Linked DNA regions of Homo sapiens. The protein of the gene in region 1 purifies or fractionates together with the protein of each later gene. This does not show direct contact. Each region holds a gene or a part of one and is shown on either strand. Other genes may lie near its edges. The genes, in order: TCEAL7, ESF1 and DDX46.

Region 1 (3,756 bases):
CCAAGTTTTACATTCAAGTTTATACAAAAGCTAAGTAAGTACAATTAATTCAAACTAGGATTTGTCCAATGCCATTCTTCTTACTAATATGCAAAGTCTTCAACACCCGAATCCTTCAGCCATTTTATAACTCTGAGTCTAACCATCTGCATGAAAAGCTGTTCACAGAGGATTCAGGAATTTTTCTCCCCACAAACGAATTTTTTGCCTCTATCACAACTAGTCATTCCTTAATAACTGTGACAATGATGCTCTACTGTTTTTAAGACTTTTTTCTGACCACTGAACTTTTTTCTGGAGTCATTTATATCAAACTGATTAGTGGTAACTTTATATTCATAATGAGCTGCAATCTTCCTAAAAACAACTTATGAGAAGTTTACACATCTCCCTTTCTATTGCATATATTTCAAGCTAACAAATCAAGAGCAAATCTACTTAGACAAGTACCCAAATCCTTAGCAACAAAAAGTTTAGTGTGTTGGGTGGCTAAATGTGACTAATTTTTGTTAGTACTACAAGTAGCTTTCAATACATCAGTATGGCTAAATAAGGTCATGGAAAACATAAATAGGATGGAGATGTCTAGGGAAAATGAAAAACTATTCTTTTCTGAATGAGAGTGTTGAAAAAAGTTGGGATATTAGGGGTACAGTATTGAAGAAAAAAGGGTTATGTGTATGGTATAAACTGGAAGAAAGAGGGCATGATACTGAGCTCAAACTAGTTAAAATTTGTGACTTACAGTTGCGATCTGGAAATCTAAGGGCAAGGTGCTGTAGGATTATGGTCTCAGTGACTCACCTAATGGAAGGACCTCACATGCCCGGGAGCCCCTCAAAAGAGTAGGTTCCAACTGACCTGTACATCTTAAACTTCAAAAAATATGTCTGCCTAAAGGGTCTATATTTATATTATGACTTCAGCAGCAGAAACAGGTGGCTGGCCTTTTTATCCTCCTATCTGGAATCTTTTTCCAAATGTACATATCTTTATCATATTTCTGATTATTAAAAGTATATAATAAGTTTATGGAAAAATTGGAAAAGAATAAGAAATTATCAAAACAAAAGTAAGAAGCACAATCCAAATCATTACCTCCTTTCCTAATTCACCCCATTCCCTCCAATCTGGTTTCAAGGATTGGACTCCAAGGGAAATGATGGCTATTAGTGGCTGAGAGGCGATTGGATGGAGGAGACTGCCACTTTTCTTTTCTTGTAGCTTAGAAAAGGATAAGTAATCCTCCCTCTCAGCACAACCACAAAAAAAGTAACAATGGTTAATATAACTTTGGGAAAATGCAGCCCCTCCCTGGTAATCAGAGAAAGGCAAATTCTGACCACAGGGAGAAGGCGCCACTTTTGACCTCTGGAATTAGCAAAGACAAAAATGAGTGACAGGGCCTGGTGTGGTGTGGGGTGGGAGGTTGGTAAGCCGGTCCACTTCTGCAGCGCTGCTGGTGGGAGGGGAAAGTGGGGACCAGAGATGGGGGATGACATAATCCTCACGTGATCAGGAGCTGACGTGAACCGAAGTCCTTATATTCCCGGGCTTCTTTCTCCTCTGGGTACCAGCTCCTTACTGCCCTGCAGACAAGCGTGCCGTGCGTGCTTGTGGCCAAGGGAAGGAAGAGGTAAATTCCTTAAATCCCAGCAGGTTGGAGTGAAGGAACCACTGGACCCCCGGGGTCAGTAGTGGGTGAATCTAATGACTGGAATAGGTCCAGACTTGCTTTCCCAAAACCGCTGCAAAATCGTCGGAGATAATTGTATCTTTTGCAGGGGGAAGCAAGGGGGTAGGTCGAAATCTTTTGAGAGACACCTAGAGATTTAGTGACAGCTTTGAAATAATCGGCTTCTCTCACCCTGGCATGCTTTCTTTTTATCCTTCTCCTCATCTTTCTCCAATTTTGTTAAGAGAAAATTTTAGGCCTGGGGTATGTGTTGGTGTGTGGAGAAAGGCTGAAATCCCGGGATGGAGACAACAGAAATTTAGAGATCATTTGAAAATAGTTCACCTCACTCAATGCCGGCCTGTGGTGGTGGGGTGGGGCGCGGGACGGGGCGAAGGAGGGAGACGCGGGCCTTGCAAGGCCCAGGCCTGAGGGTGAGGAGTGGGGAGTGGAAACGGAAATCCTGAAGGAAAGGATACAGACAGGAAGGAGGGGCCAGGAGGTAGAAATCCGGGGGGCGATGACGGTGATGATGAGAATCCCAGGTTCAAAATAATAACGTCTGTCTTGTCTCTGGAGCTGGTTGATCCACAGATAGCTCCTTCCTCCCCGCCCCTTCCTTTTTGTTTGGAGGTCCCAGGATCTGTGTTCACAGACATCTGGGGGAAGAAAAGGAGCAGGAAACTACCCCGCACAGGTCAGTATGAGAGAGGCACTTAGACTGAGATCTCTGAGGATAGGAGTCGGGAAGGGGCAAAAGCTAGGCGAAATTTGCGGCTTCGCAGTCCATCTCCTTTTCTGCTCCGCCTCTCCTGCCTATTGGAGAGGCCATTAGCTTTGTCTGCTGGGGAAACGGTGGGTTCCTGAGGTGGGAGGGGAGAAAAGGGGGAGATGAGAGGGTGGAGGGAACTGCCGCAGACTTATGAGGTCTGGACCTGTGGGGCAGAGATGGGAAAGTATCTTGCCTCAGAGAGAAACTGACAATCGTGATTCAAAAGTAATGAAGCAATTTGTCTTTACATTTTCTCCCTAGAGTTAAGCAGGAAACAACAACAACATCATGCAAAAACCCTGCAAAGAAAACGAAGGAAAGCCAAAGTGCAGCGTGCCAAAGAGGGAGGAAAAACGCCCGTATGGAGAATTTGAACGCCAGCAAACAGAAGGGAATTTTAGACAGAGGCTGCTTCAGTCTCTCGAAGAATTTAAAGAGGACATAGACTATAGGCATTTTAAAGATGAAGAAATGACAAGGGAGGGAGATGAGATGGAAAGGTGTTTGGAAGAGATAAGGGGTCTGAGAAAGAAATTTAGGGCTCTGCATTCTAACCATAGGCATTCTCGGGACCGTCCTTATCCCATTTAATTAATTTCTCTGACAATTCAATTATTTTCTGTTATTAATGTTGCCACTGCTTTCTGTTTGTCTGCACTTTCTTGATAAATATTTGCTATCGTTTTACTCCAGTCATTCGATGTTGCTGAGATTTACATATGACTCTTGTCAACATCTCATCTTTTGACCCAATCTTATTCATTTAATAAGAGGTCTCATTCATTTGCATGGAAAAATGCTCATTGTATATTGCAAAGTGAAAATAACGAGTTGCAAAACAGTGTATACATATATGTGTGTATATATGTACACTTTATTTGTACATTTCTATGTGACATAATGCAAAGGAAAGTGTCTGATTTTATTATACACCAAAGGTTAACAGTGAATCTCTGTGTGATCTCTTTTTTTTTCTTTTTGCCTATCTGCATCTTCTCACTTGCCAAAAAATGAATATATGTTTATGTGTGTATATTACTTGTGTCACAAAAAACCCTAAAGTAGACAGTAAAAGAACTTGTCAATCGCCTTTGGAAGGCAATGAAACACTTAATAAACTCTCAATAACAGAAGCGTAAAAATGAAATGTAAACCTCCAATTACCTCTGGATCTCTTAGCCAGAGTAATAAACTGGTAATTATTACAGATACACACGTTTAAGACTCAGTCTTTTCATAGGGAAAATATTTGCCTCACAGGGCTGCTGTGGGAAGGAAATGAGGCAGTAACCAGCTGTGCTCAGTGGGA
Region 2 (2,703 bases), on another chromosome or scaffold:
TGCCAGGTATAAATAAAAAATCGGTAAAATCTGCAAAAGATGGCACATCTCCAGAAGAAGAAATTGAAATAGAAAGACAAAAGGTAAAATACGATTATTGTTACATGCTTAGTGGATAATTCATAGGTACAATTTAAATGAAGTTGTACATGTCACTAATTTTAAAAAACAACTTATTTTAGCAGTGGCATTTATAACTAAATTGTAAGAGACATAATTAAATATTTTAGCAGTGTAGTTTCTAAATACAGTGTTTTTTTTACCAAACATAATTTCTCCAAATTGTACAAAGTTAAAATTAACCTCAAATTCAAGGGTATTTATTTTCTTTTATAAATTAAGAGGGAATTATCTCACTTTTAAAAACACTTACTATACCTGAGGCAGAAAATACCCTTAAAACCTCAAAATAATATTGCCATAAGTTTTAATTCAATCTGAATCTGTCCTGGAATACAGTTTGTGGTTATGGTTTGTCAAATGCAAATTTCTGTTTTTCTTATTGTGAATATGTATATTTAACGTACAAAATTACATTCTTGGAAATGCAGTGAACCTTATGCTTCAGTGACCCCCTATGTCCAGAGTCACACGTAATTTTGGCACAGAGTCATATGTGATTTTGCTGAGGCAGGAATTGAAGGCAGCAGTGCCCCTAGGGCTGATGTTCATGTCACTGTCCAGAAGTGTGCCTGACTGGCCACATAAAGTTATCTAAAGAGCAACAAAGAAAATCAATTTTTATGGAAAATGTCTCTGAAAAGCCAGCTAAAAGTGCCAGTGACAAAAGGAAATTAAGGCAGTCTAAAGTGGTAATATAGGAAGATCCACAAAGGTCGAGAGCATACTCTGTATTTTTACTAGTGTACATGGTTATTTACTTGATTCTTGAGGGTTCTCGTTTAATCCCATGGCTGGTAGAAAATACCCGTTTAGTGTAAAAAGACATTTACTAGATTTCAGAAGCAGATCCTAAGGTCCTACCTTCATAGAAATGTATCAGTATTGAAACAGTAAAGGCCAAAAAAAAAAAAGCAAAAAAAAAACTTACTTGTTAAAAGTTACACATTTAGAAAGTATAATTTGCATCACAAAATAAACATTTGCTAGATTTAGCATCATTGCGCAAAAAGAACAAAGTGAAAATGAGAACTTTTTATTTGAGGGTAGTTGGGGACTCTTGTTCCTGCAGCCTACTAATGAGTCACACTAAGTGAAATGGGGCCTGGTTTTTAACTACAAGGTTTTACCTCTCCTGCTCTCAGTAATGTTGCTTCCAGAGATTCTACCTTATTGCTATACAAAGATCTCTTTGTTTTGGTAATCCACAGTCAGTTTACAGACAACAGGTGGTACCCCAGAGTTCTAGTGATTGAGTCTTCCTTTCTAGAAGAGATATCTTCTGCCCTATACTCCTTTTTGGGGGTGGAAAAAAAAGCACTGTTGTACATTTGAACTTTTTTTTGCTCTCTACAGGCTGAAATGGCTTTGCTTATGATGGATGAGGACGAGGACAGTAAGAAACACTTCAATTACAACAAGATTGTGGAGCACCAGAATCTGAGCAAAAAGAAGAAAAAGCAGCTCATGAAAAAGAAGGAATTAATAGAGGATGACTTTGAGGTAACCATAGACACCAGGCATAGCCTCTTAAAGCTGGAATTGAATCTAAAGTCAGCTCTGCAGATAGAAATTGAGCATAGTCAAAGTTACCCTTGAAAATGTCTTAGGGGCCCGGTGCAGTGGCTCACGCCTATAATCCCAACACTTTTTTGGAGGCCGAGGCATGAGGATCACTTGAGTCCAGGAGTTGGAGACCAGCCTGGGCAACATAGTGGGACCCTCATCTCTATGAAAAATAAAAAAAATTAGCTGGCTGGGCGTGGTGGCTCATGCCTGTAATCTCAGCACTTTGGGAGGCTGATGTGGGCAGATCACGAGGTCAGGAGGTCAAGACCATCCTGGCTAACACGGTGAAACCCCATCTCTACTAAAAATACAAAAAATTAGCCAGGCGTGGTGGCGGGCACCTGTAGTCACAGCTACTCAGGAGGCTGAGGCAGGAGAATGGCGTGAACCCAGGAGGCGGAGCTTGCAGTGAGCCGAGATCTCGCCACTGCACTCCAGCCCAGGTGACAGAGCAAGACTCTGTCTAAAAAAAAAAAAAAAAAAAAAAAAAAAAAAAATCCAGGTATAGTGGCGCACACCTGTAGTCCCAGCTACTCAGGAGGCTGAGGTGGGAGGATCGCTTGAGTCCAGGAGGTCAAGCCTGCAGTGAGCCATGATTGTGGCACTGCACTCCAGCCTGGGCAACAGAACAAGACCCTGTCTCAAAAAAAAAAAAAAAAGAAAAAAAAAGAAAATGTCTTCAGAAAGACTGATGGTGGAGCCAAAGGCTACTGTCTTTTAATCCAGCACAGCCAGTTCATCCTAGGGTGGATGAAATCATTGTTTCTTTGGTTGAGCACCAGGTGAAATAGTTGACTTGTATTTTGGTAGCCATATTGTACCAAAAATGTGTAGTTTTTAATGTTAGAATCACATGTAGTGATCCTCAGACCAGCAAAGGTATGCTTGAATAGCAGGTTCATGTCACAGTGGGTCACACTCACTGTGTGCAGTGGCCAGCGCAGTAAGCCATGTTTTTTCAGTTGCTGTGTTTTTTGTTTCCATTACTCCTTCCTCTTTTTGTTGAGTACATAT
Region 3 (3,656 bases), on another chromosome or scaffold:
AGCCACCGTGCCTGACCAATCTTACATGTTCTTACCACAAAAGAAAATATTGGTAACTATATGAGGTGATATGTTAGCTTGATTGTGTTCATCATTTCAGAGTGTATATGTATATCAAACATGTTGTACACCTTAAATATATATAATTTTTGTTAATTATGACCCAATATAGTTGTGGCAAAAAAGAACATACTATGTTAATGCTAGATTAGAATTTTTGAATCTTTTTACATAGATTATCCCTCCTCCCTCTTCCCCTGCCTGAGAAAGCAGATTTTTTTTTTCATTTTACATATGAGGAAATATTCAGAAAGATTTATTAAGTTGACCAATTAGGTTAATACGTTCTAGAGTTTGTCCTGGAACCTAGGTCTCTGATCTCTGAGCATTTGTTTCTCTAATCTATGCTGACATCTTTAAAAAGTGATGGTGGCCAGGCACGGTGGCTCATGCCTGTAATCCCAGCGCTTTGAGAGGCCGAAGCGGGTGGATCATGAGGTCAGGAGCTCAAGACCAGCCTAGCCAACATGGCGAGACTCCCCGTCTCTACTGAAAACACAGAAATTAGCCTGGCTTGGTGGCGCCTGCCTGTAATATCAGCTACTCGGTAGGCTGAGGCAGGAGAATCACTTGAACCTGGGAGGCGGAGGTTGCAGTAAGCTGAGATCACGCCACTGCACTCCAGCCTGGGAGACAGAGCAAGACTCCATCTTGGGGGGTGGCGGAAGTGATGGTGATTACTGGGATGCATTAATATCAGAGGTGTTTTGTTGTTGTTGTTGTTGTTGTTTTTTGGTTTTGTTTTATTGGAGACAGCATCTTACTCTGTTGCCCGGGCTGGAGTGCAGTGGTGTGACCTTGGCTCACTGCATCCTTGACCTCCTGGGCTTAAGCCGTCCTCCCTCTTGAGCCTCCTGAGTATCTGGGACCACAGACGCATGCTACCACACCCGGCTAGTTTTTGTATTTTTTTGTAGAGACGAGGTTTTGCCATGTTGCCCAGGCTGGTCTTGAATTCCTGGGCTCAAGCAATCTGCTTGCCTTGGCTTCCCTTTGTAACACCTCCGAAAGGTATAGACGTGAGCCACTGTGACCAGCCCTTCAGCTGTCTTCTAAAGAATGAAATAGTTTTCAGATATTTTGCTTAACTAGAAGAAGGCAAAAAAGTAGGTTCTGTGATTGGATAAGTTTTGGAAATGTTGGAGTATAAAAAGTTAAAACCACTTTCTTTCCTGTAAGACTTCTTTGTTCTTAATAAGCTAATGTATATTGTGTTGCTAGATAAATGGGATAAATTAAGTGACGTTTTCTGAACTTAACTACAAAACTGTTTCTTAGGACTATTGTTACAAGAACACACTTCAAGAATATTTGCTTTTGTTAACTCCAGTGCTATTTTAATTACTTCAAATTACTTCATTTTCTAAGTTTATCTTTATGATTTTTCATGACTGTAGTTTGTAGAAATACACTTACAAAATAACATGGTACATGCCTGCACGTTGTATTTATATAAATGCCAAACAAAAGTTTTATGATGTTAAGGGACTTCTGGTATTTTCCATTCCATTTCATTTAAAAAATGCTGGTTGTGGTTGAACACTATGGCTCATACCTGTAATCATCACAGCATTTTGGGAGGCTGAAATGGAAGAATCACTTGAGTCCAGGAGTTTGTGACCAGCCTGGGCAATGTAGTGAGACCCCATCTCTTAAAACAGTAAATAAATTAGCGAGTGCCTGTAGTCCTAGATACTGGGAGGGTGTGTGGGGTGGTGGGGGGAGGGGCTGAGATGGGAGGGTCACTTGAGCCCAGGATCTAGGCTGCAATGACCTATGATGACACTGCTGCACTGGGCAACAGAGCCTGGGCAACAGAGTGAGACCCTGTCTCAAAAAAAAAAAAAAAAAAAGCTGATTATGACTGTTAAAGTGATTTCATGATTCACTAATGTGGCAACCCTCAATTTGAAAAACACTAGTCTATGTGGTCACTTAGAAATTTCTTTTTCTGAGGCAGGGTCTTGCTCTTGCTCAGGCTGGAGTGCAAGGATGTGATCATAGCTCACTCCAACCTTGAACTCCTGGGCTCAAGAGATTATCACTTTTTTTTTTTAAACTGCTTTCTTAAGTTCATTTCTTGGTTTTGAGGGATAGTGGCAAATCAAATTTGCAGAATTCTCTAGTTCTTATTTGTTTCAAATTTATGGCACTATGTGGTCACGTTGTTGCTATTTCTTTAGTAGTGCCCCGAGATTCAAAATAATTAAGCAGGAAGCTTGGAAGTCTTCTAATTAGACTAGGCAAGAACTAAATGCAGTATTTTTTAGTGTTTAAGTAAGCATTAGTAATAGACTATAAAGTTTCATCTTTTTTATTAGATTGCTGAGCTGAAAAGAGGTGCTGAAATTATTGTTTGCACACCTGGTCGAATGATTGACATGTTAGCCGCTAACAGTGGTAAGTCAGGGGTATTTTTTTGGTGTCTTTTATTTTTGAATTCTTTACTTTTTTTTGTTAAAACAGATGCAAGAAACCAACAAAGGGTTTCTATATTTCTTCTTAAAGCTGCAGTATCTTAAAATTTGTAGCCTGTAGTCCCAGCTACTTGGGAGGCTGAGGCAGGAGAATAGCTTGAACCCGGGAGGCGGAGCTTGCAGTGAGCCAAGATCGCACCACTGTACTCCAGCCTGGGTGACAGAGTAAGACTCCGTCTCAAAAAAAAAAAATAATAATTGTAACAAGTTGATTATTACAAGCATTAATGATATTTTTGCAATTTAAAATTTTTTTTCAGAAGTAACTCCATCTGATCATAACTTGGATTCTTAATCCAGTTTTGGCCTGGCTTTGCTTAGTAAAAGAGTGGGGTAGTAGCTTTTTCTTTATTACAAAATTTAGACTTTTTCTCCACATGAGCTAGTATTTTCTTAGATACTACATAAATTAAGATATTGCAGCTTCAAGAAATTTTATCTTTTGTAAATATTGCATGTTTGTAGCTCAAATGTTATGCTTTGTTAAATTATTCCCTATCAAAACTCTTACTAAACTGTTGACATTATTTAACTTCTGTGGAGAAAGGCCCTTCAAGATTTATAGAACTGGGCTTCCGAGACTTAAACCATCAAAGGTAGGTAATTTAATGCTGTTCCCGACCTTGCAAAACTAATTGGGGCTACAAATGCTAGTGTGGAATACTTAAATATTAGATAGCACTTATTTTGGCACTTTTTATTTTTTGAAGAAAATGCTCTCAGAGGTTTCCATTGCAATATTTAGTGTGTACATAATAGAGTATTAAAAACTGAGTTAGTGCATGTTTCTAGTAGTATTCTGCTTGAATTTCTAATTCTAATTGTACATGAAGTTGGCAAAGTGACATCGAAATTGAGAAGTCATTGTGCTTGTCTAGCATATGGAAAGTTTTGGTTTGAATGCTGATTAAATAATCCCTTTTTTTTTTTCTCAATGCTGCATTGATTAAGTCTCCTCCTGAAATTCATCTTGATTAATTTTACCTTTTTCTCTTATCTGTCATTGTGGTCTATTTTTAAATAACTATTTTATACGTGTTTTTGCCAGGTGATTGATTCAACAGTTGATAGCAATGCTTCTGTTAATATTTTAGAAGGAATTTCCTATGTATGTATTTT

The links.
Region 2: the proteins of TCEAL7 (region 1) and ESF1 purify together in Homo sapiens (affinity purification with mass spectrometry; one large-scale study listed by BioGRID and IntAct). This does not show direct contact.
Region 3: the proteins of TCEAL7 (region 1) and DDX46 purify together in Homo sapiens (affinity purification with mass spectrometry; one large-scale study listed by BioGRID and IntAct). This does not show direct contact.

The regions. Positions count from the first base shown.
Region 1 is NC_000023.11:103,328,669-103,332,424, forward strand, and holds TCEAL7 (transcription elongation factor A protein-like 7), read left to right. Parts: upstream 1-1,570; 5' UTR 1,571-1,636; intron 1,637-2,254; 5' UTR 2,255-2,372; intron 2,373-2,708; 5' UTR 2,709-2,735; coding exon 2,736-3,038; 3' UTR 3,039-3,658; downstream 3,659-3,756. UniProt on the Homo sapiens protein: Plays a role in the negative regulation of NF-kappa-B signaling at the basal level by modulating transcriptional activity of NF-kappa-B on its target gene promoters.
Region 2 is NC_000020.11:13,716,288-13,718,990, reverse strand, and holds part of ESF1 (ESF1 homolog), read left to right. Parts: intron 1-6; coding exon 7-83; intron 84-1,476; coding exon 1,477-1,623; intron 1,624-2,703. UniProt on the Homo sapiens protein: May constitute a novel regulatory system for basal transcription. Negatively regulates ABT1.
Region 3 is NC_000005.10:134,786,132-134,789,787, forward strand, and holds part of DDX46 (probable ATP-dependent RNA helicase DDX46), read left to right. Parts: intron 1-2,381; coding exon 2,382-2,460; intron 2,461-3,084; coding exon of another isoform or gene 3,085-3,137; exon of another isoform or gene 3,138-3,483; intron 3,484-3,656. UniProt on the Homo sapiens protein: Component of the 17S U2 SnRNP complex of the spliceosome, a large ribonucleoprotein complex that removes introns from transcribed pre-mRNAs.